Linked DNA regions of Homo sapiens: regions 1, 3, 4 and 5 are each linked to region 2. The links come from fine-mapping of genetic effects on gene expression. A gene starts in region 2. Each other region holds a variant in brackets. All regions are shown on one strand. Distances are from middle to middle.

Region 1 (5,097 bases), 130 kb before region 2:
AAACAGGAAACCCTGGAAGAGCCAGTCCTTGAAGATGGACCCCGCATGGCTAACTGGGCCTAATTTCAAAACAGAGCCAAGAGACCATCTGCTGACTAAAGGCCACACACATACTGTGCGCTCCCAGAAAACCCCACACTCACAGCACTCTGGGGCTTCCATAGCTGCCTGTTCCTGTCCACCACTCCTGGGAAATCCATCTGGACCCAACCATGGGCTGTCGCCTGTGCCAACCAATCAGAGCTCAGCAAGTTTGTATCCCGCATTTTCATAGTGGACCAGAGTGGGAACCTGGGTGGGAACTTTATAAATGACGTCCCCTCTCTTTCTTCTCTCAGAACACACTTTTGTTTCATGCCAAAGGCTACGTCTCCCTGGTTTGCAGACTGCTCAATGGAATAAAGTCTTTCTTTTTCTGAAAGAAAAACCTTTTCAGGGGATTTGCCTACAACGCCCACCATGAAGCAGTGTCGGAACACGAGCCCTGCTCACCTCAGAGACCTGGAAGAAAAACAGGTGCTCTGCAGCATTGATTGCAGCTCCCTTACCGAGACTCGGTCTCCATGTTGGCAGGCCTGTTCTAGAACATTCCAAGTCAAGTCAGGATGGTGCCCATGTGATTCAAAAGGCCAGTTCCTGTCTTAGCTTTGCTGGGGGGAGCACATGAACATAAATAACAGAGATAGAAATACAAATATAAATTCCAGGCACTGGCACTGTCTAAGGGGCAAACCGGGCCTCAAAGCCCCCCATGCAGGATCATTTGCAAGCACACGGTCGTGTGTGCACGTGGCCTCTGCGTGATTCTAAGTGACCCTCTGCACAGGCTGTGTCCAATTTTAATTTAAGGAGCAAAAGGAACATAAACAAGAGTCCAAGGAGTGCAGCCCGTGGCCTGCTCTTCAGTGTCCTCCGCTTGACAGGCTGTGGTCCCAGAACCAGGCTACACACACTTCCTGTTTGGTCTGGAATCCTGTGGATGGGCCCTGCTGGTCTGAGGTCCAGAAACGGTCCCCAGAGCTGCCCCGTCCAGGCCTTCTGGGCATTTCCTGCAGGGGCTGCACCCAGCTTCCTTGTCCCTTCCTTGGCCGCATGTCTTGGCACCTGTGACCTCCTGGCCACACCTCTGCCCTTGGCCTCCTCCGGGCTCCTCAGCCTGCCTGGATGCTGATGAGGGCCTTGGCAAGGCATGGTGCTACAGGGGGCACAGCGTGGAGCTCCCTCGACCTCATCAGCTGGGGACCCAGACATGCCTTCCAGACCTGTCCAGGCAGCCTCCTCCTCAGGCCCTTCGTGTCTCCCCTGCCTCCCACTCCAGCACCCCTGAAAACACCCAGGTCAGGGCCCACCTCAGGCTGGCCCACTGGGCAGTGCCCTCCCAGGGCACCGTGAGCCTTTTCCTCCCCATGACCCTCTCTCCAGGGGGACAGCAGAAAGCCCATCCTCTCCCTCCAGGGGGTGCTGCTGACTCTGTGGTCCCCTGAATGAGACCATCACTGTCACTGCTGAAGCCACGTCACAGTGGCCAGGCCCACCCAGGCCTCCCACCAGACAGGCTCGGCTCTGGGCCACTCATCTCCTGGACCAGCGCTAGGATGCACACCCCTCCAAAAATAAGAAGGAGGGCAGTGGGTTCCGAACTCAGGTTTAGAAAAAACACCAAGACAGTGTGGTCCCTTTGCTGAGCTCCCCGCCGGCCAAGTGTGTTCAAAGGGTGTGCCTCCATCCCAGCCTAAAGCCAGCTCATGCGCGTCACCAGCCTGCAGACAGCTCTCCCCAAGGCAGGATGTGGGTGGCTTCCAGCTGGGAGACAAGGGTCCCACAGGGCGGCCCTTGCAGACATGGGGGCTCTGCCTCGAATGCCTGGTCAGTCTCCACCTAGAAGACAGACATTCCCTGTAATTTCTGAAGTGGGAGTTCTTTCACTTCAGCCTCAAAAAGTGTTTCTGAGTGGAGGGCTCTATCTTTATCCATAGCTACCATCTCAGGCAGCAGTAATAAAATGGTAGAGTAAGTGAGTGTGTGTGTGTGTGTGTGTGTGTGTGTGAGAGAGAGAGAGAGAGAGAAAGAGAGGAGAGAGAGAGAGAGAGAAGTGGGGCGGGTGGCAAAGCAAATTAAATGCTGATTGCCACTCAACAGGGAC[G/A]AGTTAACTCTGGGCCCTGGCCTGTGACAGCACCCTTGTCATTCTCATGCTCCCCAGTCTCCCTCTGACTCCTGCAATCGTGCACCTGGTGGCTGTGTGTGAGCTGCCTCATAAACTGTGAAAGCAGGCTCCCAGACCCCAAAACCATGACCCCCAGGAGGCAGGTGTTGGCTGAGTCTCCAGAGCCAGCACAGAGCCCAACACCAGCTGCATTCCTGGGCAATTGTCTGGATGGGAGTGAGCGGCCCTTTCCTGCTGCACGGTGGGTCCTCAGGCATCAGAACAGCACCCTGCCTGGCCAGGGAGCCTTTGACTGACAGGCCAGGCGGGAGTCTGGGCCTCGGGATCAGGGGAAGGGAGATAGACAAAAACGATGCCCCAGACACTGGTGGGGGTGCCGAGGGCACCGGGAAAGGCAGAGCATGCCTGTGACGTGAGCCAGAGCCTTCTGAGGAAGGGCTGGGGGCCCCTCCCAGCCATCCGGAGCTCAGGCTGAGTTTGTGGTCCAGCACAAGATGTTCTCACTTGGGCCTGTCCCAGGCCACAGCAGGAGAACGGGAGACCAGTCTGGCTGGAAACACTGAATCCAGTCTCAGACCAGAATGGACACTTCAGGGCCACTTTCTGAAGCACACAGCCTCGCAGCCATGGCTTTTGGTCTTGTGGCCATTTCCCGACTCTCTGGGAGCCGATCTCAGTTGCTTGCCCTGACTTTTCCAGCTCAGGGTCCTATCCACTTCATGAACAAGGAGTATGCCTGGGCCTGGAACTCACAGCTCCCTGGGGCCTCATTCGAAGGACAGTCGACAGATGGAGAAACAGCCCCCAGGGCCTGGCACAGGGGACTGACCCAGCGCCAGCGTGTGCCTGAGCCAGCTCGTGCCAGCTCATGAGAGCCCACTGTCCTCTTCCCATCTCTGCATCATCAGCTTGAAGTCAGCCATGCCAGGAGTGTTTACACCATGGGAATCAGCAAACACTAGAAATAGGGGACTTTGTTTTTTCTTTGAGAGTCCGTTGTTCAACATTTACCAGCACACACAAGGGTTGATGAGTACGTTCCCCAGCCTGGGACAAAACCCGTCCTTTCCCACTGCCCTTCTCTTTTTGTTGGTAATTCATATGTCCACCCAATACTCACTTCATGCCACCTGCTCTGTGCCAGGCACTGGGGTGGGTGCTGGAAAGGCAAAGGTAGTTGGACACAGGCTCTGCCCTCCAGGAACCCAGGGGCTGGGAGGACCTGATGACGGCTGAGCGTTAACAGTTCCGACAGGAGGGAGTGCAGGACACCCGCTAGGGGAGGGAGAGAAGCGGCTCCGGGTACAGAGCACAGCCCCTACCAAGGACAAGAAGTTTCGGAGGCCACAGAGCTTCAAAGGACCACGTATGGCTCTGCATGCCAGGGAGGAGGGTAAGCTGGGGGCAGGAATGAGGAAATCAGAGACACCAGCAGGGACAGGATCGTGGCCAGCCCGTGTGCCTGCTGTGAGTGTTCACTGTGTCCTGGGGGCAATGGGGGCTAGGGCCAGGCCAGGGGGAGGAACCTGCTGGGGCCCACCATTTGGGAATAAAAACGGTCTTCTCATATTTTAGTGAAACCAGGTCAAATATTTTATCACAATTAGTTGATTCAAAAGGGAGCCCCTGGTCACCACTGACTCTTCCTTCGTTAGCTGTTTTCTAAGGTTGTCAAAGCCAGAGACTACGAGAAGGAGATGGAGACCCTCGGTAAGTCAGATGGTGCACAGCAGAGTAGGGGAGGCCAACCTGAGCCCTAAACCTGCAGAAGAGATCTGCCAACACAGAGTGGCTCTCACTCTCCATACTCCAAGGCCAGGCATCAAGTGTGCACCACAAGCAGAGAGCAAGACGTTCACAGGTTGCCTTTCCATCTGTGGCTGAAAATCCTCAGTCCAGGGTTTCTGATGCCCTTGATTTTGTAAGCTGTCCTGCCATCGCATTAGGTATTCAGGTGCCCAGCCTGATGCTCTTGGCAATGACCAATTGCTTCCACCACCCTTGTTCCAGGAGAGTACAGCATCCCGTGGATCAGATCCACCATCCTTGTTCCAGGAGAATGAAGCATCCCGTGGACCAGGTCCACTGTCCTTGTTCCAGGAGACTGCAGCATCCCGTGGACCAGGTCCACCATCCATGTTGCAGAAGAGTGCAGCATCCCATGAACCAGGTCCACTATTCTTGTTGCAGGAGAGTACAGCATCGCATGGACAAGGTCCACCAGCCTTGTTCCAAGAGAGGGCAGCATCCCATGGACCAGGCCTACTGTGCTTGTTGCAGGAGATGTAGATGTTACCCAGAGCCGTGCTGGGAGTCACTCATATTGGTTCAAGGGTGTAGGACAGATGTTGACCCCCAGAAAGGGAGAGAAACACCTGAGCAGCATCCTATGGACTAGGTCCACTGCTCTTGTTCCAACAGAGGGCAGCATCCTGTGGACCAGGCTCACTGTCCTTGTTCCAGGAGACTGCAGCATCCCGTGGACCAGGTCCACCATCCATGTTGCAGAAGAGTGCAGCATCCCATGAACCAGGTCCACTATTCTTGTTGCAGGAGAGTACAGCATCGCATGGACAAGGTCCACCAGCCTTGTTCCAAGAGAGGGCAGCATCCCATGGACCAGGCCTACTGTGCTTGTTGCAGGAGATGTAGATGTTACCCAGAGCCGTGCTGGGAGTCACTCATATTGGTTCAAGGGTGTGGGACAGATGTTGACCCCCAGAAAGGGAGAGAAACACCTGAGCAGCATCCTATGGACTAGGTCCACTGCTCTTGTTCCAACAGAGGGCAGCATCCTGTGGACCAGGCTCACTGTCCTTGTTGCAGAAGAGGGCAGCATCCCATGGACCAGGTCCAGATGAGGCCAGACTTTGTCCTTCTATAAGAGGTGCCAGCCCACTTGCCTAAGGCTCAGTGCTATCCCCTTATTGCCT
Region 2 (5,097 bases):
CGAAAGACAATCCCTGAAACCAAACAGAAAGGGAAGCTGTCCGTCCATGGCAGCGGGCAAGGGCGTGCACACTCACGAGGGTTCCACGGAGCAAAAGTAGGATAATTTCTGGGCAGACCTGCCGTCCGAACGGCTGGGAGCTGCGGGCCCCCCGGCGCTCCCTGTGTCTTCTGAGCAGAGACCAGGCTCAGCATCCCGCAGACCCCCACCCTCCCTAGGCAGAGGCAGGAGTGGGCCCTAAGCCAGCAGTACACGCCCTCCAGGACCTGGGGTCCTCCACAGAAGATGGGGGCATGGAAGGGAGGCCCCCACGCCCTGGCCCAACAGGCACTGCCTGCCTCAGCCCGTCAGACAATGCTAAGTGTCCTCTGCCCTCACTGCACCTGTGGAAGAGCAGGTCCAGGCTGCGCCACACGCCCACTCTCAGGGACAAACTTTTCCTCTCAGGTGTTTCCTCACTTGCTCATTCATTCCTTCTTTGTGTCGCATACGTGTGCCCCCACTGTCTAGCCAGGCAAAGACACCAAAGCAGGAGGGGGTGGTCTTGGTCAGAGCCACAAGGGTCACTGTGGTGGCTGGGATTCGAGGCATCAACTATGTCCTCAAACCCATCCACGTGTCCTGTGTGGAGCGGCCCCAGGGACAGCGGTGGAAGAGGGGGCTGATCAGCCTTGCCCATCCTCCCAGAGTCCCAGTCTGGACCCTGCACCCGACTAGCACGGGCAGCCTGGCGGCTCCTGCCCTGGTGACAGCGGGCGTGTGCAGCATTGCCAGGAGGGAAGCAGGGGTAGCTGCAGCTGCTCAGGATCCTGCGGCTCCTCCCAGGTGCAAACACGGCTTTTGCTTCCAATGCCCCCGGCGGCATGTGCATCCTCTCCAGGGAAGGCCCTGGCTACAGGTCTCCTGGCCTGCGGAATGGGAATGATTCCAGGACCTGCGATGGTGGTAAGGACTTCCTTAGGAGATGAAGCCACCCAGGGGTCACCAGGGCCAGGCAGAGGCTGCCACCATCGCGTTCTAAGCCCTGCTGTCCACACTGCCATCCAGAGGCCCAGAACTAGGCTGGAGGAAGGACTTGCCTGGAGGAATAACCCAACCTGGTCAGATTAAGAGGAGGCGTAGACAGTGACGGGGTAACTATAGAGCCTCAGGCCGGGTTAACCTCAAGTCCAGCTTCCTAGGCCCAGGCAGCCCTGCCTGATCCCGCAGTGCGTGAGACCACACAGAGAGAGAGCGGGATCGTGGGCCCAGGCTCCTGACCGTGCTGGATAAGGTGTGCAGGCAGCCACGCCAGGCCCAGGCAAGAAGGAGCAAGCCTGGAGCATGTACTGAACAGGGGTCTGTGAGTCACAAAATGTGACGCAGCAGAGGGTATGTGGGGGAGGGCAGGGAAATGCACACTTGGATTGGGTCCCCAAAGCCTCCCTCTCCAGCAATGACTCAGTGTCTCTGGGTGAAGGAGCAACCTTCTCTGGGAGGCAGGGCAGGAAACCCCAAGAGCCCAGGGGGAGGGCACCCCACCTTCCTGCTCCAGCCCCACACAGCGGCTGAGAGCCCCAGGCACAGAAGGGGTAGGGAATGTTGCCACCACCCCCACCACGGACCCCGCTGCAGCTTCCAGGTGATGCCACAGGCCCTGAAATCAGGACACCCTTGCTGTACATGGGGGTCATCTTGAGGTTCTCTGCCAAGGATACTGACCTCTATGCCTGCCCCCAATTCTGCAGCTCAGGCACCTGGCTTCACCGCCAGGCCTTACCATGTGGAGAACAGGGGGCCGGGGTGGGGGGTCTGGGAGCCAAGGAAGGAGTGAAGCCCTCCAGACACCAACATCGCAGTCCTCGCCCCCTCCCTACAGACCCCATCCAGCCCAACTCCCCATGTGCAGCTAAAGCCACGCGCCCTCCTACCATACAAGGTGCAGGCAGCCCTCCCGCCTTCTTCAAAGAGGCATCTGCTCCGGCTCACTCCACCCTCCTCCCCCAGTGGCCTAACTAGTCGCCGGGTTCCAACCCTATCCCTTCTCCAGAGGTCATCTGGCCCCACCCAGCAGCCCAAACCAGTAGACCGGCCCTGCCCCATCACTTTGGTTTCTCCAGCATCCAAAGAACGTGGAGGGTCACCCCCCCAAAACAGCTGTCAAGGTCCAACAATTAAGCCATCTGTTGCCGCTCCCTGGGACTGGGAGAGGTGAGGTCGAGTTTCTTGGCGAGTTTCCTGCGTGCAGCCCCCACACCACAAAAGCCCCCGGTGCGAGCCGGAGCCCAGCGCGAGACGGCTGGAAGGGCGCGGGGAGGGAGCCGCTGCGGGGTGCAGGCGGGGAGAGGGGCGGCGGCTCGAGGCGCGGCCGGCGGGCGGAGGGTACGGAGGCGCCGGGAGAGCGTTCTCGGGGCGCGCTGCCAGGGTGCAGGAAGCCGGAGCGCGCGGGAGGGAGCGGGGAGCGGGATGCCGATTTCGGCTGGGGGCGGGGAGGCCCCTGATTGGGGCGCGGGAGGCGTGATGTCACGTCCGGCGGGGGAAGCCCTGCCTCGCGCACCCTCCGCCCCCGTCCCCGCCCCCACAGGTGGTGCCACCGCCCTGGGCGCTGGGCGTGGGGGGCCGCCCTCGGGGACCCCGGCCGCGGCCCCGCGCTGCCCGGCTCCGCCGCCTCCCGCCGGGGATCGATAGAGTCGCGCGGCCAGGCGGGCCCTCTGGGTCCCTAAGAGCCAGAGGAGCGCCCAGTGCGCCCCGGCCCGCGCCCCCGCGCCGCGCCCCGCCCCGCCCCGCCCGGTGCTCCCAGTCCCTCCCCCACCCCTGCGCTCCCACCCTGCCCCGCCCCTCTCCTCTCCCGCGGCCGCCTAGGGGCCGGGCCGGCGGCGGGGGAGGCGCCGAGCCGGGACTGCGCTAGCCCGCCGCGCTCTGGGCTGCCCGAGCGAGCGTTCGGACCTCGCACCCCGCGCGCCCCGCGCCGCCGCCGCCGCCGGCTTTTGTTGTCTCCGCCTCCTCGGCCGCCGCCGCCTCTGGACCGCGAGCCGCGCGCGCCGGGACCTTGGCTCTGCCCTTCGCGGGCGGGAACTGCGCAGGACCCGGCCAGGATCCGAGAGAGGCGCGGGCGGGTGGCCGGGGGCGCCGCCGGCCCCGCCATGGAGCTCCGGGCCCGAGGCTGGTGGCTGCTATGTGCGGCCGCAGCGCTGGTCGCCTGCGCCCGCGGGGACCCGGCCAGCAAGAGCCGGAGCTGCGGCGAGGTCCGCCAGATCTACGGAGCCAAGGGCTTCAGCCTGAGCGACGTGCCCCAGGCGGAGATCTCGGGTGAGTGAGGGCGCGGCGCCGGGAACCCGGGCCTGGCCGGGCTTTGGGCTCCGGACCCTGGTCTTCCCGACGCGGCTACTCGCCCCCGGCGCGGGATCCTGCCGCCTGCGCCCCGCCGCCCGGGCCCCGAATGGCTCCCTGCGCTGCGGCTCCTCTGCAACCCCACGGCCCTCGCCTCCAAGCCCCGCGCCGCACTCCCTCGCCAGGGTCTCCTCCGCCCCGCTCGGTCGTCCTCCGCCCCTCCCCGCCCCCCGCACGCCGGCTTCTTCCCTGCGGAGCTGATCTCGCCGGGCTGCGGGCTCGGGGCGCTCCTCCCGGGCCACGGCTGGAGCTGGGCGTCTTCTGCCCGCCGCTCGGCCCAGCGCGCCTGCAGGCCGGGAGTCCCAGCCCCGGGGCCGGCTGTCGGGGCGCTGTGGGGCTCGGCGTGGCCGGGCTTTCGGGGCGCCGCTGACGGTGGCCGCGGACCCCTTCTGCTCTGTACAGACCTCTCTGGGAGGCGTCTCCGGTCCTGCCCGGGGATTCTCGTAGGGTCTCCAGCAAAGGCAGCCTAGGTGGGTTTTATAAGCTGACCCCCTCGGGGGGTAGTGCGGAGGGGTGGGGAGGGAGCTGGGCACTTATCCGCGGGCGGAACGCCGCCGCCTCGTAGAGATTCCTGTCGAAGAACTTGTACGCGCCGGCCCCCGCCTGGCGCTTGGGCAGCCTCGTGCCGCGAGTCCAGCTGCAGGTGGTCGGCGCGTTGGATCCCGCCCAGGGGCCGTGTCATTTCTTTGTAAGAACAGCGGCCCTCTTGGCGCCCCCTAAGCCCTGCAGCCGCCTGCGGCTCTGCCTCTTCCCTCCCTGTGGTCCCGGAGGAGCTTTGGGGACAGAAGTGTACGGGTGGGTGGAACGGTGGGCTCCGTGTGCTAAGGAACTCTTGGAACCCAAGCTTCACCTTTCCACGTGTGGGAACCAACCTCGGTCTGTACCGCGTGCCAGGGACCCAGTGGGCAAGAACAAAACAGACTAGGTTCCTGCTCTGGGGGGCTCCTCTGAAACCAGGGGAGTGGGAGTGCGGGTGGAGGGCTACTCAGATGGGGACTCAGCGCAGAAATGCCCATGGTCCTGGGGATTCTGAGCAAGAAGGATCCGTGCATCTGGGTGAGGGGGGTCTGTGGCCATGCCTTGCCGCGGGGGGCGGAGTGGTGGGAGGAGGCAGTCGGGCTCTGGACCCCTGCCCCTCCAGGAGGAACAGAACCCACAGACAGCCCCTTGCCCTTGGTGGATCTCCCGATGCCCCCAGCCTGAGGTTCTTGTAAGGGCCCCCTGACCGCCCCCCACAGAAGGAACAGAACCCGCAGACAGTCCCTTGGCGGATCTCCCGATGCCCTCCCCACCAGCCTGAGGTTCTTGCAAGGACCCCTCCAAAGTCCCCAGGACAGGCCTTCCTGTGCCTCTGCAGAGGCAACCCTGTCATTTCCAGGCTGCCCCCCTCACCCCACTGGGCTCTGTCTGTCCCAGGTAGGGGGCACACCTGGATGCCAGGCAGCACAAGGCCCTCGGCACAGTTGGGTTCGTTCTCTGCCCCTCTACTCACACATAAAGAGGCATCCCTGGCCTTCCTGGTGAATCCCTCCCCAGGCACCAGGGTAGCAGAGTGGCTGAGTGGCTGCCCCTCCCAGCCCAGAGTCTTGAACCCTGCTCCTTTGGAAACCATTAGCCCCCAGCCCTTCTTAGCACCTCCATGTCCTCTGGGCAGTTGCATCCTTAGGAGCCAACCTAACCTTCCTTGCATCCACAGGCCACTGTTGCCAGTTAGAGAGACAGAGTGGC
Region 3 (5,097 bases), 32 kb after region 2:
AGATGGCCCTGAGCACTGCCAGTGATGACCGCTGCTGGAACGGGATGGCCAGAGGCCGGTAGGTGCCCACCTGGCTGGCACAGCCCTCCCTCCCATGCCGCCTCCATTGGGCTGTGCCTGGGCCAGGTGCTGTCTGCACGGGGCCACGTCCCTTGCTGGAGGGCTTGAGCCCCACTTCTCTGCGGCCTGTGTGGGCTCTGCTCGGTCCCTGGAAGCTGCTGGGCATCTCAGGCTCAGAGCGTGGGAGAGTGTCCTGCTCAGGTGATGGCCCTTTGCAGGGGCTGGAGCAGTGACCTGGGCTCTGCCTGCCTTTCCCCCAGGTACCTCCCCGAGGTCATGGGTGACGGCCTGGCCAACCAGATCAACAACCCCGAGGTGGAGGTGGACATCACCAAGCCGGACATGACCATCCGGCAGCAGATCATGCAGCTGAAGATCATGACCAACCGGCTGCGCAGCGCCTACAACGGCAACGACGTGGACTTCCAGGACGCCAGTGAGGGCAGGGCCTGGCCGGGCGGCCAAGGGGCCAGGGTTGGTGGGGGTGCCACAGGGGTGTGACTGCCCTCCGGGTTCCCCCACCCGAGGGGCCCTCTGCTCCGGCATCACCACAGTGAGTCTGAGGACGCTGTGCTGCCCAGGCACGATCACCGAGCCCTGCACCTCTGCGGCGCCCTGGAGGCCTGGCCGGGATGTCTGTTGGCTTTGGCTCCAGGGACCAAGGGAGGCAGCCCCAGGGAGTGAGAGTCTCCCAGCCTCAGGGGTCAGCGGGGATCAGGTGCTGCTGGTCCTGGGATTCCACACCGAAAGGATGTTGGGGTCACCTGGCACGGGCCCTTACAGGGTGGTGCTGCACTGGGGTCTCCTGTGGGGACCTGCCTGCCGGAGCCTCCTCTCCTTCCCAGGTGACGACGGCAGCGGCTCGGGCAGCGGTGATGGCTGTCTGGATGACCTCTGCAGCCGGAAGGTCAGCAGGAAGAGCTCCAGCTCCCGGACGCCCTTGACCCATGCCCTCCCAGGCCTGTCAGAGCAGGAAGGACAGAAGACCTCGGCTGCCAGCTGCCCCCAGCCCCCGACCTTCCTCCTGCCCCTCCTCCTCTTCCTGGCCCTTACAGTAGCCAGGCCCCGGTGGCGGTAACTGCCCCAAGGCCCCAGGGACAGAGGCCAAGGACTGACTTTGCCAAAAATACAACACAGACGATATTTAATTCACCTCAGCCTGGAGAGGCCTGGGGTGGGACAGGGAGGGCCGGCGGCTCTGAGCAGGGGCAGGCGCAGAGGTCCCAGCCCCAGGCCTGGCCTCGCCTGCCTTTCTGCCTTTTAATTTTGTATGAGGTCCTCAGGTCAGCTGGGAGCCAGTGTGCCCAAAAGCCATGTATTTCAGGGACCTCAGGGGCACCTCCGGCTGCCTAGCCCTCCCCCCAGCTCCCTGCACCGCCGCAGAAGCAGCCCCTCGAGGCCTACAGAGGAGGCCTCAAAGCAACCCGCTGGAGCCCACAGCGAGCCTGTGCCTTCCTCCCCGCCTCCTCCCACTGGGACTCCCAGCAGAGCCCACCAGCCAGCCCTGGCCCACCCCCCAGCCTCCAGAGAAGCCCCGCACGGGCTGTCTGGGTGTCCGCCATCCAGGGTCTGGCAGAGCCTCTGAGATGATGCATGATGCCCTCCCCTCAGCGCAGGCTGCAGAGCCCGGCCCCACCTCCCTGCGCCCTTGAGGGGCCCCAGCGTCTGCAGGGTGACGCCTGAGACAGCACCACTGCTGAGGAGTCTGAGGACTGTCCTCCCACAGACCTGCAGTGAGGGGCCCTCCATGCGCAGATGAGGGGCCACTGACCCACCTGCGCTTCTGCTGGAGGAGGGGAAGCTGGGCCCAAAGGCCCAGGGAGGCAGCGTGGGCTCTGCCAATGTGGGCTGCCCCTCGCACACAGGGCTCACAGGGCAGGCCTTGCTGGGGTCCAGGGCTGTTGGAGGACCCCGAGGGCTGAGGAGCAGCCAGGACCCGCCTGCTCCCATCCTCACCCAGATCAGGAACCAGGGCCTCCCTGTTCACGGTGACACAGGTCAGGGCTCAGAGTGACCCTCAGCTGTCACCTGCTCACAGGGATGCTGGTGGCTGGTGAGACCCCGCACTGCAGACGGGAATGCCTAGGTCCCTTCCCGACCCAGCCAGCTGCAGGGCACGGGGACCTGGATAGTTAAGGGCTTTTCCAAACATGCATCCATTTACTGACACTTCCTGTCCTTGTTCATGGAGAGCTGTTCGCTCCTCCCAGATGGCTTCGGAGGGCCGCAGGGCCCACCTTGGACCCTGGTGACCTCCTGTCACTCACTGAGGCCATCAGGGCCCTGCCCCAGGCCTGGACGGGCCCTCCTTCCCTCCTGTGCCCCAGCTGCCAGGCGGCCCTGGGGAGGGGTGGTGTGGTGTTGGGAAGGGGTCCTGCAGGGGGAGGAGGACTTGGAGGGTCTGGGGGCAGCTGTCCTGAACCGACTGACCCTGAGGAGGCCGCTTAGTGCTGCTTTGCTTTTCATCACCGTCCCGCACAGTGGA[C/T]GGAGGTCCCCGGTTGCTGGTCAGGTCCCCATGGCTTGTTCTCTGGAACCTGACTTTAGATGTTTTGGGATCAGGAGCCCCCAACACAGGCAAGTCCACCCCATAATAACCCTGCCAGTGCCAGGGTGGGCTGGGGACTCTGGCACAGTGATGCCGGGCGCCAGGACAGCAGCACTCCCGCTGCACACAGACGGCCTAGGGGTGGCGCTCAGACCCCACCCTACGCTCATCTCTGGAAGGGGCAGCCCTGAGTGGTCACTGGTCAGGGCAGTGGCCAAGCCTGCTGTGTCCTTCCTCCACAAGGTCCCCCCACCGCTCAGTGTCAGCGGGTGACGTGTGTTCTTTTGAGTCCTTGTATGAATAAAAGGCTGGAAACCTACAGCAGGGCGAGGCCTCGGGGGGAGAGAGAATGTGTGCGTATGTGTGTGTGTGTCTGTCTGTCTGGGGCTTGGGCATGGACCACACTTCCGTGTTTGGGGTGAACGTGCAGCCCCTGCCAGCTGCGCCCTTCAGCCTGTCTGCAGCTCCACCTTGCCCTGGACAGACTCCGGTCTGTCCGCCCCTCTCCTTGGTGCAGGGGAGAAGGAAAAGGCCAGGGCACGGAGACCCAGATGGCCTCCAGCAGGCCCCACCTCCCATCTACCTCTTCCTGCCTCCTGCCCCTGCTCTGGGCACACACAGCACAGAGATCCTCTACCCCTGGAAGGTTCTGGTTCCTGCCAGGTGGCCTCAGAGATGCCCAAGGGGCTAGAGAGAAGGAACCAGCATTGTCCCAAGGATGCCCTGGTGGTCCAGTTTGTCCCCAGCCACCTTTCTCTCGAGGCGGAGGGTCCTGTATAACCCTAGGGGCTCCCTATAGCCCCGCTCCTGTTCCTGTGGGGTCATGGCCAGAGGCTAAGTGGCACGGCGGCACTGGCAGAAGCGCCCACTGTTCTGGGTGTGTCCCTCAACTGCTTTATTGAGAATTGCAGCCAGTACAGGTTGGTCTGGTGAACATTTTTAACATTGCGTTTCCATCATCTGGGACCCAGGAATAGAGGGCCCCCTAGCAACTGGGACCTCCAGGCCCCTTGTGAGCGTGAGAGCACAGAGGGGTGGGTGGGCACCCCAGGAGGGAGATGCAGCTCCACCCAGCCCTGCTGAACTCCACTGCTTAGTAGGTCCCAGCTCCGGGCAGGACGAAGGGCTGCACACAGGCCTCCCACAAAGCATCTGCAGCCGCCAGGTCCCTGGTAGCCACGGTCCTCACTTGCAGGCCCCTCCGCAAGTCCCAGAGGCCCGGCTCCTCCCCTGGGAAATGAGGGTGGGGTGGAGTCCTCTCCGTGGCGGGCCAGGGGATGCAGCCTGGGGGCTCAGCGGGGCCCCTAGGGGACAGGTGAGCAGCCAGACACTCATCAGCGGCTGTAGTTGTGGACAACGCATTTGGTCCAGCCGGCAGGATCTCAGGCTTCCAGGCACCACCTTGCCCAGCTGCTTCAAGACTTCCACAAGCCCTTTTTGAACCTGGGCAAATGCATCTTTCATGTCAGGGAAAGGAGGACACAGGTGCGTGTGCACTCTGTGCAGAGCCGACACCACGCCAGGAGTGGGTGGGCAGGGGCACCCGGCTGGTCTCAGCCCTGCCTTCCCGGCCACACCTCAGACCACCAGGGAGCTCCCAAGTTCTGCCCACCCTAGTGCTGCCCCAAGAGGCTGCTCAGGGAGAGACCCCTTCCAGCCAGGGCTGGCTCTCAGTCCCTCTCGGTTCCTCACAGGAATTCCAGAAGCCACAGACAAACTGACCCACCCACACTGATGGGCAGAGAGCAGCCCCTCAGTCAGCCTCCCTTGAGCAGCTCAGCCCAGCCGTGGTGGGTGGCCCCAGCGTCTCCCACACCATCTGCAGGCAGCCCCGGCAGGCCAGCATGGGTGTCTGCTCCACACGAACATACACCCATCACACGGTGCACACACATGCACATGTGCACTCCACATTTACACACACAAACGAACACATACAACACCCTGTACATGCACACACAAGCACACATATCCATACACGTGCACACACTTCTGCACATGCACGTCCTCACATGCCCACATGCCCATGCACATGTGCACACTCCTACACATGTACACACATGCACACACATAGGTATGAACACGTACAATGCCCTGTGCATACACACACAAGCACACATATCCATACACGTGCACACACATCCTCCTGCACATGCATGCACTCACATGTACACATGCCCATACACATGCATGCACATGTGCACAGGCCTATGCACGTGCACACATGTAGACAGGTACACATGCCCATACACACATGCACACATTACATACATGCACAGTATACACGCATGCACTCACACAGAGACAGACACACCCGTGGGTGCACACACTGCTCCTGTCCAGGTGACCCTAAGTATTCTTTATCTGGGGACAAGGCCCTCTGTCGAGAAACACCATTTATAATCGCAGTGCTCCCTTGAGTTTGGGACAGACGACTAACTCCCACCTCTCAGTCCACCTTCCTCCTGCCCTAAGCCACTACTGAAATCATG
Region 4 (5,097 bases), 61 kb before region 2:
TGGGATCCATCCTGTTGGGGATACAATGAAGCCACAGCAGGCCAATGAGTTGAAGGACAGGAGTCAGGAGAGCAGTGAGGGCGAGGTGGGCTCGGGTGTGGCGGGCCCTGGACAGCTGGCCACTGTTTCTGGGACTTTGGATGGTGGCGTGGAGCCTGGCATTTTGTCCTGATGATGCCCGCCGTGCCTGGGGCTGGCCGAGTCTTCCCCGCTGGCCTGGGCCCCCAAGCTAGGGCTGCCCTCTCTGCCAGTCTGAGCTGAGTTTCTAGGCTGAGTTGGTGGCTGCCTCTCTGGGTCTTCTGAGACTTCACCAGGTAGTCTCTGCAGAAGCTTCTGGAACTTGCTGCAGCCATGACTGCCCCAGAAATAAGAGAGGTGCCCTTCTCTGCCCTTCACCCACCCTTGAACACTGGCCCAGCACCAGCCTGAGAGGGTCCTGGGCAGGGCCAAGCTTGCAGGACCCCAGAGGAGCCCAGAAGTGGTCCTGGTGGGGGTGCTGGGGCGTGGGGGTCCCCTGGGCTGGCCACCAGAGGGTTTCCTCCAGACCGCTGTGTGCCTGGGCTGGGGGAGGGCCTGGGCTGGGAACAAGGAGGATCTGTGCTCTGGGCCTGGGCAGGAGCCAGTTTGGGGCCCTCCTTGGGCCTTTGAAGTCCCAGGCGCACCCACCCTGAGGCCTGGGTAGGGCAGAGGCCTGGTGAAGCCCCACAGAGGTTTCTTGCGGAGGAAATCTCAAGTCCCTGAGAGGGGCAGGTGGGAGAGGGATGTGGGAGGGATGGGAAGAGGGGGCAACGAGAGCAGGCTGTGGTGGGGGGAGGGGCGTGGCAGAGGGGCAGGGCATGGAGGGGGCAGGGCTGTAGACAGGAAAAGGAGCACGGAGGAGGACAGGGCTGTAGTTGAGGGGCAGGGGTGTGGAGGAGGGGAGGTCATGGAGGGCAAGATGTGGAGGGGGGCCAGGCCATGGAGGGAGCAGGGTGTGGAGACGGCAGGACTGTGGTAGGGGTGAAGGGGCATAGAGGAGGGCAGGCCTGTGGTTAGGGGCATGGGTGTGGAGGATGAGCACGGCAAGGAGGGAGCAGGGCTGTGGTGGGGGGAGGGGCATGGGGAAGGACAGGGCACGGAGGGCAGGGCCATGGAGGGTGGGAAGTGGTGGGTGGGCTGTGGAGGTCCCCCCAGGGCCACTCCTGTTGGGGCTGCTGTAAGGAAACCCCATGAACTGCGTGGCTTGTAAACATCAGGAGTTTATTTCTCACAGCCCAGAGGCTGGAGGCCGGAGATCAAGGTGCCAGCCTGGTCGGGGTCTGGGGAGGGCTGTCCTCTGAGTTGTGGATTTCCGACTTCTCATTCCGTCCTTAAAGCGGCAGAAGGAAGGGGAAGGAGCCCTCTGGCCTCTTCTTACAAGGTCACGGGACCCATTCATGACAGCAGCGCCTTTGTGACCGCATCACCGCCCAAAGCCCCACCTCCTAAAACCGTCATATTGGGGTTCGATTTCAACATAAGAATTCGGGAGCTGGGCGTGGTGGCTCACACCTGTCATCCCAGAGCTTTGGGAGGCTGAGGTGGGAGGATCGCTGGAGCCCAGGAGTTTGAGGCTGCAGTGAGCCATGATTATGCCACTGTACTCCAGCCTAGACGACAGAGGGAGACCCTGTCTAAAGAATTTTGGGGCAACACAAACATTCAGTCCATAATACTCCCCATGGACAGGCCACGCTTCTTGCCTCAGCTTGGATCTTCTAGGCCAATGCAGGTCCCAGCCCAGCAGCCTCAGCGGACCGAGTCTCGGGGGCCGGCAGGGGTCTGTACCTGCTTCCCCGGCCCCTTTACCGCCCACCACTCTGCTCAGGTCTCTGGACCTGTGGGCTTTCCAGGCTCCTTAGACCAAAGCCCACCAGCCCGAGCCCAGCATCTGCGCAGGTGCTGTGGGGACCAGGACATGGGTGCTGGGGTGCACGGCCTCTGTGATAATCCGGGACACAGCACTCGGACGGAGCCTGCACTGTTTCTTAAACACACACAAGGTGGCCTGGACACAGATGCTGGAGTGCGCGGCCTCTGTGACAATCCGGGACACAGCACTCAGAGGCTGCACCATTTCTTACACGCACGGGTGGTAGCCCCTTCGATGGACAGTACTCATTCTCAGACTCTGGCTGGGCCCCTGGGGTGCTGGAACCAAGATGAGGAATCAAAAACAAGGGTCTGGGAAGTAGCCCAGGCTGAGGCTCCTAGGAGGGAGGGCGAGAAGTACCCGAGTACTAGGGCTAGCTGGACGTGTTGACCCTGCTTGGCCTCCCCTCCCAAACCCTGGACCTCAGTGAGCCTGGGTACTGGGGCTAGCTGGACGTGCTGACCCTTCCTGGCCTCCCCTCCCAACCCCTGGACCCAGGTGGACTGGGGTACCAGGGCAAGCTGGGCATGCTGACCCTGCCTGGCCTTTCTGGTCTCATTGTGACTCAGGCCTGGGGGTTCCCGAGGCTCCCAGCTTAGAGGCGGACATGGCTGTGAGGCCCTCGCCCTTTCCCACTCAGCAGGGATGAGTTCAGGGATGGCCAGGCCCCAGTGATGTCACCAAGTTGAGCTTCTGAGCTTCTGGTGCCTGTGTGGGAGCTGCAGCCCTCAGGAAGAAGTGTCCTCCCCTCCTCAAGGGACCAGAGAAGGAGGATGGGGAGGAGGCCTGGCCC[G/A]AGGTCGTCTGATGCCAGCCTGGGGCCTGGAGCAGCCTGGAGCCAGCATGCGTTCCAAGGGGAATTCCTGGGGAATGATGCAGCCGGCCTCGCTATCACAAGCTGTCATTTGAGGGAGAGCCGCACTCGGAACGCCTCCCAGCCCCAGTGCAGGAATCCATCTGGCAAGTCTGCCCTCGGACACTCACAGGACACTCTTCCAGGATCCCTGGGCCTCGGGGTGGGGCCAGGGTCTCAGGGGAGGAAGTGCCCAGATTCCTGGACGCTGGCCCCGAGGAGGGTCTGGTGGCAGCCACCTCGGTCAGGACGAGGACAGAGCGTCCAGCCCCGTGCCAGCTCAGTGGCCTCAGAATACCACAGCCACGTCCCTCCTGTCCAAGGCCCAGCAGTCCCCGGGACACTCCAAGAGCCATCCACTTTCTAGATTTGGGCTTCCCCTCCTCAGTGACCCCAGCTCCTCCCCAGAGAGCAAACCCTGAAGCAGCTCCTCTGGGGGTCTTTAAGAGGAGAATAGGACTCGTGCTATGCTCGGGGTGGACTGAAATCATGCTCATCACACTAAAGCATACTGCAACATAAAGCCAGGTGTTTGCAAATGAAATGCAAACAGTCACACAGAGCCAGCAAAGCTACCCTTCACCTCACTTGCCGAATGAGGCTGTTCGGCTGAAACTCAGTGTCACCGGGCCCTGAGTCTGCACACTCACGCTCTCAGCTGCTACAGAATGATGACTCGGTTTCCCCACCGCTCTTTGGATTCAAGCTGCTGCAAAGCCCTCCCCAGCCTGGGTGTCGAGAAGTTGCTTGGCCCAGTCGCATGGCACGCCCAGGCAGTGGGGCCCGCAGACAGCGTGGGCACCGTTTACGGATGAATCGACGAGCCCCTCTTCGCCTCCATCCCTACGCGATGCACTTCCCCATTCTCCTGACACCGCATGGGCTGTTTCTGACTTCCAGCTACCAGGAGCAAGGCTGCCATGACCTCCTGTGTGTGTACATCGTGCTGCCGTCACACGTGCCCCGATTTCCGCAGGGTGCCCACGTCCAGGGTAAAGCCGCTGAGTCAGGGAATCTACATCTTCAAGTTGACCAGGCGTTGTTCAGCCAGTTCCCAAAGTCACTTCAGTGACTTCCACTCAGAGTATGAAAGGCCCCATTTCTCTCCAGCCTCATCAACACAGTACTGTCAGCATTTAGCCCCTGCCAACCAGGAGATAGCATGGTGGAGACCCACTGCAGTCCTGATGCGAGTCTCCCTGGTTACCAAGAAGCTGGTCCCTGTGCACACATCTTATAGCCAGTTGGGTCTCCTCTCTGCCAACCACCTGTCCCAGTGCCCTGACTGCTTTTCTGTGCAGTTGCCTGTTGTTTTGTCATTGATTTGCCAGTACTCTTTACATATTTTAGATTCCAAGTCCCGTCAGTTACATATGTTGGAATATTGTTTTTCATTCTGTGACTTGTCTTTTTCAAGGTCTTGGGACTTTTCCTTCCCTAAAACATTTAAGGACCACTTACCAGACATGCTGGCCCATACCTGAGTGTGGAGAGAACAAGGCGTTGGTAACAGCCCGGCCTTTGGGACTCCACCACATGGAACAGAGCAGCCCCCTGGTGCAGCAGGAGGGCTGCTGGGGACATCACTGAGGAGTCACATCTTGGAGCTGGTGTAGCAGGAGGGATGCCACTGGGGGACCTCACCTCGGAGTAGGAGTGCAGCGGGCAGACTGGCTGGAGAGGTTTCGCTGGAGAGCGGTGCCCATAGAGGCATCTCAGGGCCATCCTGGCCTGCGTGAAGCAACATGACGCCCCATCCCTCCATAGAAAGGGCTGTGCCAGCAGCTCCCACTTGGCCTCTGCGTCCAGGAGTGTGAAGGGATGATTTCTCTGCCCCCTTTGAGAGCCTCCATCTTTATTACATGGGCAGAGGGCCTCCTGGGAGGAAGGTACATGTGTCCAGGGCTCCAGAGCACAAGGTCAGTTTAGGAAGTGCTGACTGCAGCCAGGTCCTCACCAGCTCTCCCACACTGGAGCTAACTTGGCAGTGCCAAGAAAGGTCCAGGAAAGTCAGGGCTGGGGACTATGGGCAGTGGCAGCCTGGGGAGCCCCGTTCCATCCCCAGCCTGGGAAGGGAGGGGAAGGCGCCCCACCTGGGACCCCCGTGGGCCTCACTGTCCAAGGTGTGCAGTGAGCGGCCCACCTGAGTGATCAGCCTGCTCAGAGAGCTTCAGGTCAAAACGCTGCCTGCCCCACAGCCCAGCTGCTTCTTCCAGTCCCGTCCTCAGACACCCATGAAGACACAAACACAGACACTTCCTATCAGGAGACGAAGATGGGCAGATGGGAACCGGAGCCTGGGAGGACCGATACTAATTACAAGGCGACAGAGCCAGATGAAACACCTAAGCACGCC
Region 5 (5,097 bases), 23 kb after region 2:
TCTATCCCCAGGTGTTGAGCTGAGAGAAGTGGTGGGGAGGCCCCTGGGGGTGGGGAGGCCCCTGGGTGGGGAGATTTAAGATGACAGCTGGTCTTGGGCACATTGCTCTCCATTCAGAAAGGCCCCAGCCCCTGGCATTCTTCCAGGAGGGGGCTTGCTTTGCCGCCCTGCAGGGGGACTCTGCAGAGCCGGCCTCTGCCATCTCATGTCCAGGACCACAACCTGTGGCCCCGGCCTGCGCCGGGCCGGAGCTCCGCAGAAGGAAGCCAGCGGGAGGCCTCCTGCCTTTGACTGCCGTGCGTCCAGCCTGCAGCGGGCCTCAGGGGGCCGCCTCGATCCAGCCTGCCCGAGGCTCCCAGGCCTTCGCCCGCCTTGCGTCCAGCCTGCCGGGGGCTCCCAGGCCGGCGCCCGAGCTCTGGCTCCGTGTCTTCACTCCCGTGCTTGTCCGAGGAGGGAGGGAGGGACGGGGGCTGTGCTGGGGCAGCTGGAACAACGCAGGTCGCCGGGCCGGCTGGGCGAGTTGGCCGGGCGGGGCTGAGGGGTCGGCGGGGGAGGCTGAGGCGCGGGGGCCGGTGCGCGGCCGTGAGGGGGTGTGAGAGGTGGCTGACGGCGCCGAGGAGCCCCTCAGAACCTGCAGGTGGGGGGAGCTCCCATATCTTACGGGTGTTTCGGGCCTCACCTCTCCATGCCTCTCGTCAGCCTCTCCCGTCTGCGTGGTGGGGGCTGGGGAGTGGGTCCGCCGGGACCTCGCGAGGGAGGGGCACAGGAGGAGCCGGCGGGGGACGCCACCCACCCTCCTCCCTAGGAGTGCTTGAGCCCTAGTCCTGAGTCTTGGACCAGCTCACTCGGTTCCTGTGGCCCAGCCAGCCTGGCCTGGGTGCCCCGTCACAGCTGAGCCCATCTCAGCTGAGCCCAGGGTGTGTCACCGGGAAGCTCAGCTGGCACCTGCCACCCCCTCCCCCAGGCACGTTTCCCTCCCACTGCCCAGCCCATTACCATCATGTGTCCGGCTGACCTGTGCTCTCCTGGTCTGGGCAGCCTGGATGGGTGCACAGGGCCCCATCACAGCCCACACCCTCGGAGAGACGCCTCCTGAGTCTGCTCAGCCTGGCACAGGCCCCAGGAAAGGACCCGGAGGGGCGGTTCCTGCTCTAAATCCTGCCCCCACGGGGGTGGGACTGGGGCAGAATCCCATCAGTGAATAAAGGCTGCAGAGTGAAGGATGGTCCCTGGCGAGTGTACCTGTGTCCCAGTCTTCTTGCCTGAGGGCGCCTTCCCACCCATGTGAGGAGTGGGGAAGGAGCACCCCTTCTCTACTAGGCCCCAGGGCTCTCAGAGCCGGGCTCTGTCCTCACCCCAGCTGGCTCCCACAAGGCCCTCCTGGCCCCAGACTCTGTTGGACCCCCAACTCCCCCTCCAGCAGGCATCTGGAGGTAAGGAGGGGCGGGGGGCGCAGGTGCACTTGCCATTCCCGCTCTGTCTGCAGCATGGGCACATGTAAGTCCAGGCCCTGGGGAATCCCTGGACCTGCAGCCCCTGCGGAGGACTCCCTCCCCCTCTAGCTCAAGCCAGAGCCCCCTGCATCAGTACATTCCAGAACTCAGACAGGAAAAGAGGGCAAGGAGGGAGCGCTCCAGGATAAGAACCCCTACCTCGGCCCTCCCTCGCTCTCCCAGGCCCCTCTGACAACCTGTCTCCTTGCTGTCATGTCAGCAGGCACAGAGGCTACAGGGGCCAAGCGGCAGCCGCCCAAGCCCGGATTCGGGTTCTCTGTTCCCTTCTCTTGTCTCGGGCTCCTCCCTGAGTGTGTGTACTTAGAGGGTGCGGAAGATCAGCAAACTCAGTCTGACCCAGGCATTCAACCTCTGGGTAGTTACCTAGTCCTGGGTCCCCACCCCAGATGGCCTCTAGTGGGTAAGGGCTTCCTGGACCCCAGGCCTGAGGGGTGACTTCTCTTGCAGTAAGCGGGTAGGGCACTGCCTGCGCTGCTCCAGGCCCTGCCTGCAGTGGGGCTACAGATCCCTGCTCCCACCTCCAGGCAGGGCTGGAGCTGCTGCCAGCTCCCCCAGGACAGCCTCGAGCCAGGTGCCTCTGCCCGGGCTGACCCCGCCCTCGGTCCCGGTCCTGGCTCCCTCTCCTGCCTCTCCTCCCTGGCCTGGCCTTCACTTCCTGCTGACCCTCAGGAGGGCGTAAAAGAATGCAGGACCTGCTGCATTCCAGCCACCCTGGCCCAGGGTCCCAGAACAGGATGAGACAGGCCCCTGAGGCGGCAGTCCTGAGGAAAGTTGCTGGAATTCCTGCTGACAA[CG/C]CCCCCCCTTGACCCCACCCCTCTGACCAAGCCAGGCTCCTGCTTCCACCTCTCCACTGTGCCTGACCTAGGCCAGCACCAGGAGGGCCTTAGAGGCGGGGGACGAGGCCCAGAAGGAACAGTGTGGCCCCGTCAGTGTGGAGTCCTGAGCTTAGGCAGCCGGAACCACTTGCCCCCTCACTGTATAGCTGGGACGAGACCTCATCCCTGTAAGCCCCGGTTTTCTGGTTAATAAAATGAGGATTGCGGCAGCCTTCATCACAGTGCGATGCACACCCTTTAAAAAATGCAGTTTTTCCTGATGCCACACACCCATTCCAGGTGGGCCCTGAGGTGTGCACAGCAGGGCTGAGAGCTGACTCAAAGCCTGTCCTGTCCCCACTCCCCACAAGGAGGTGAAGCTGTCTCTGATGGCAGTGCCGCTGTCACTGCCTCGGACGCTGGAGCAGAGTAGCTCATGGCAGGCTGCAGAGGAGGGGACTCCACAAGGACACCAGGAGGCACAGGGTGCACCCTGCAGGGCTTGGGGCATGGTCCAATGACCCTTTCATGGGGCCTGCCAGCTGCACCAGAGCACACCTGCCCCCATACCAGACTCGTGCCTGGGGTCCTGCAGGGCCACTGCCTCTGACCAGCCCACTGTTGGTGGGATCTGCCGTCCTTGCAGTGGGAGCTTGGTGCCCCCCAGGGCTGGTGTGGGAAGAGAGGGGGATTGGATTCCTTCCTCCTTCCCCATCCTCAGACATGGGCCCAGGCAAGGGGTGCCTTTCGGGCCTGGGAGCCTTCTCCACACTTGCACACAGGAACCTGAGGCCAGTTCTTTGCTTGCAGCTGCTGGGACAGCAGGCTGGGGGGCAGGACTTGCCCAAGGGGCCTCCTGCCCTGTAGAGGCAGCCGTGCTCTTGTGTCACGTGTGGGAAGCTACGGGACCGAAGCCAGGCCTTTTCCTCCCTCCACACCCCGACCACTTCTGCCTTCACCCAGGGCACCCCCCAGGCTGGCCCACCCCTGAGCTGTGCTCCACCCTGGGTCTGCCATCCTGCCCAGGAGAGCCTGAGGGTGCCCTCCTGGCTCCCAGTGCTGTCCCAGCCCCTCTCCCTCACACTGGCCTTTCCCCACAGGTGAGCACCTGCGGATCTGTCCCCAGGGCTACACCTGCTGCACCAGCGAGATGGAGGAGAACCTGGCCAACCGCAGCCATGCCGAGCTGGAGACCGCGCTCCGGGACAGCAGCCGCGTCCTGCAGGCCATGCTTGCCACCCAGCTGCGCAGCTTCGATGGTGAGTGCCTCCCACGGGCGCTCGGGGCCCGCAGGGTGCCGGTGCATCGGGGGAGGGGCACACTGGGCCTTGCCTGGTGTGTCAATGCCAAGGGTGGGGGATTGGCAGGAGGAGGTGGGGGAGTTAGTGCTTTGGGGCTAGGGCGCTGGGTTGAAGCCCCAGCTGGGATTTGGGGGCTGCCCTCAGGCAGGGATCTGCAGGGTTTGACACCCCCCTGGGAGTGTGCACAGCCCATTCCCAGTGCACATTTGGGGACAGAGGGCCTATCCCATCAGCCCCTCAGAGGCTCCTGTCACCAGCAGATTCTCCTGAGCACCTGCAGGGAGACAGGCCTTGGCCAAATCCTGCCTGCAGCTCGTCAAGTGCCCCAGGCCACTGCCCCTGGGGACCAGGTGGCCTGGAGCCAGGGAGCTCAGTGCAAGGGCTGAGACTGGGGCTGGGGACAGGGCTGCAGAGTGCAGGGCCTGCCTGGGGTGGCCGCCACTCAGCCCTTTATATCGGGGCAGGAGTCTGGGGGCCGCGGGGAGTGACCCCTGCAGGCCTTGAGGCCCCGCCAGCTGCTGCATTAGAGCCACGTACTCCTCGGCCCAGGCTGGGCCTCGCCTTGTGTCTGGGCAGAGAGTGGCAGCCACCCCCAGGGGGACAGTGTGGGGTCAGGAGGTCCTCCATGAAGTGACCTCTGATCAGAAACACGAGGACTTGGTGGAGGGAGGCGGCCCGGGCTGAGGTACTGCCCCTGTGTCCGGGCGGAGCCAGGGCGCCGGGACAGTGAGCCTGGGCAGACAGGAGGGAGGGAGCGCTGAGGCTGCAGGGCTCCATTGTGGCTGTGAGGGACGGCAGCTGCTGCTGGGGCCCTGGGGTTTGTCTCAGCGTTCCTGCTTCTCCGGCTCCTGGACACCTGCTGTGGCCTCCCAGGCTCCCGGGAGAGTCTGCCTGTCCCCAGGAGCCCCCAAGGCCATTTCCACAGGGCTGTGGGACCTCAGCTGTTGGCGTACACCTGGGTAGCAGTGGGTCAGAAGCTCCCTCTCTGTGACTTGGACATCGATGCTCAGAGCTCAGCCCTCCCCGCTGGTGTGGGGCCCGTGGGATGCGCGTGGCCCCTCTGGGACTCTCCTTCCTCCTGCCCAGCTGGACCCGGGGAGCGAGCCCCTGCACCCTGAGTCAGGAGCCTTCCTGAGCCACTTGGTTCTGTCCCATGTGTAGGGACCCGGCTCACCTCCTCCACTCTATCCTGGGCCTCAGTTTCTCCCCAGCGCCGCTGAGCCCTGGCTCCCGCCCCAGCGTGCCACCCAGCCCTGCCCCTTCCCCTCTCCTGCTAATACCCTTGCCCATCACACCATCCTCCTGGCCTGGGGACATCCTGCCCGCCTGCTTCCTCCTGGCTCTTAGGGGGTTGGTGTCGCTGCCCTGCTCTGGGGCCTGTCCCGTGTCAGTGCCCTGCCGCCGCCCTCCCTCTGCTGCCCTCTGGAAGCCTCCAGCCTTCCTGTTCAACTCTCCTATCTTTGACCT

Direction of the effects. Positions count from the first base shown, and alleles are read on the strand shown. Sizes are in standard deviations (SD) of each study's normalised expression. Not every link is listed here.
In carriers of allele A in region 1, the expression in neural progenitor cells of the gene that starts at base 2,867 in region 2 tends to be higher than with G alone (large effect, 1.0 SD a copy in Aygun 2021).
In carriers of allele A in region 4, the expression in testis of the gene that starts at base 2,867 in region 2 tends to be higher than with G alone (small effect, 0.34 SD a copy in GTEx).

The links.
Region 1: its variant is fine-mapped to the expression of GPC1 in neural progenitor cells (Aygun 2021, PIP 0.92).
Region 3: its variant is fine-mapped to the expression of GPC1 in tibial artery (GTEx, PIP 0.95).
Region 4: its variant is fine-mapped to the expression of GPC1 in testis (GTEx, PIP above 0.99).
Region 5: its variant is fine-mapped to the expression of GPC1 in minor salivary gland (GTEx, PIP 0.95). The same link has a PIP of 0.9 or more in prostate.

What each region holds. Positions count from the first base shown.
Region 1 is chr2:240,298,103-240,303,199 of GRCh38, forward strand. No RefSeq gene overlaps it. Among named protein-coding and RNA genes, the nearest start is that of GPC1, 140 kb to the right of the region's middle. The variant G/A (reference allele first, on the strand shown) is at 2,144.
Region 2 is chr2:240,432,797-240,437,893 of GRCh38, forward strand. GPC1 (glypican 1) reads left to right here and starts at 2,867. Exons shown (of 9, transcript NM_002081.3): 1 at 2,867-3,288. The coding sequence starts at 3,123. RefSeq lists enhancers at 1,236-1,530, 1,930-2,506, 4,240-4,816, 4,868-5,097 and silencers at 2,336-2,995, 3,056-3,115.
Region 3 is chr2:240,465,153-240,470,249 of GRCh38, forward strand. GPC1 (glypican 1) reads left to right here. Exons shown (of 9, transcript NM_002081.3): 7 at 1-58; 8 at 321-496; 9 at 906-2,924. The coding sequence ends at 1,138. It also overlaps a transcript of ANKMY1 not described here. Among named protein-coding and RNA genes, the nearest start is that of GPC1-AS1, 11 kb to the left of the region's middle. The variant C/T (reference allele first, on the strand shown) is at 2,546.
Region 4 is chr2:240,371,694-240,376,790 of GRCh38, forward strand. No RefSeq gene overlaps it. Among named protein-coding and RNA genes, the nearest start is that of GPC1, 61 kb to the right of the region's middle. RefSeq lists enhancers at 1-1,884, 2,335-2,889. The variant G/A (reference allele first, on the strand shown) is at 2,685.
Region 5 is chr2:240,455,601-240,460,697 of GRCh38, forward strand. It overlaps GPC1 (glypican 1), which reads left to right. Exons shown (of 9, transcript NM_002081.3): 2 at 3,430-3,588. It overlaps GPC1-AS1 (GPC1 antisense RNA 1), which reads right to left and starts at 1,100. Exons shown (of 3, transcript NR_161169.1): 1 at 997-1,100. It overlaps MIR149 (microRNA 149), which reads left to right and starts at 401; the gene lies at 401-489. RefSeq lists enhancers at 1-351, 2,304-2,955, 2,956-3,605, 3,606-4,256. The variant CG/C (reference allele first, on the strand shown) is at 2,308.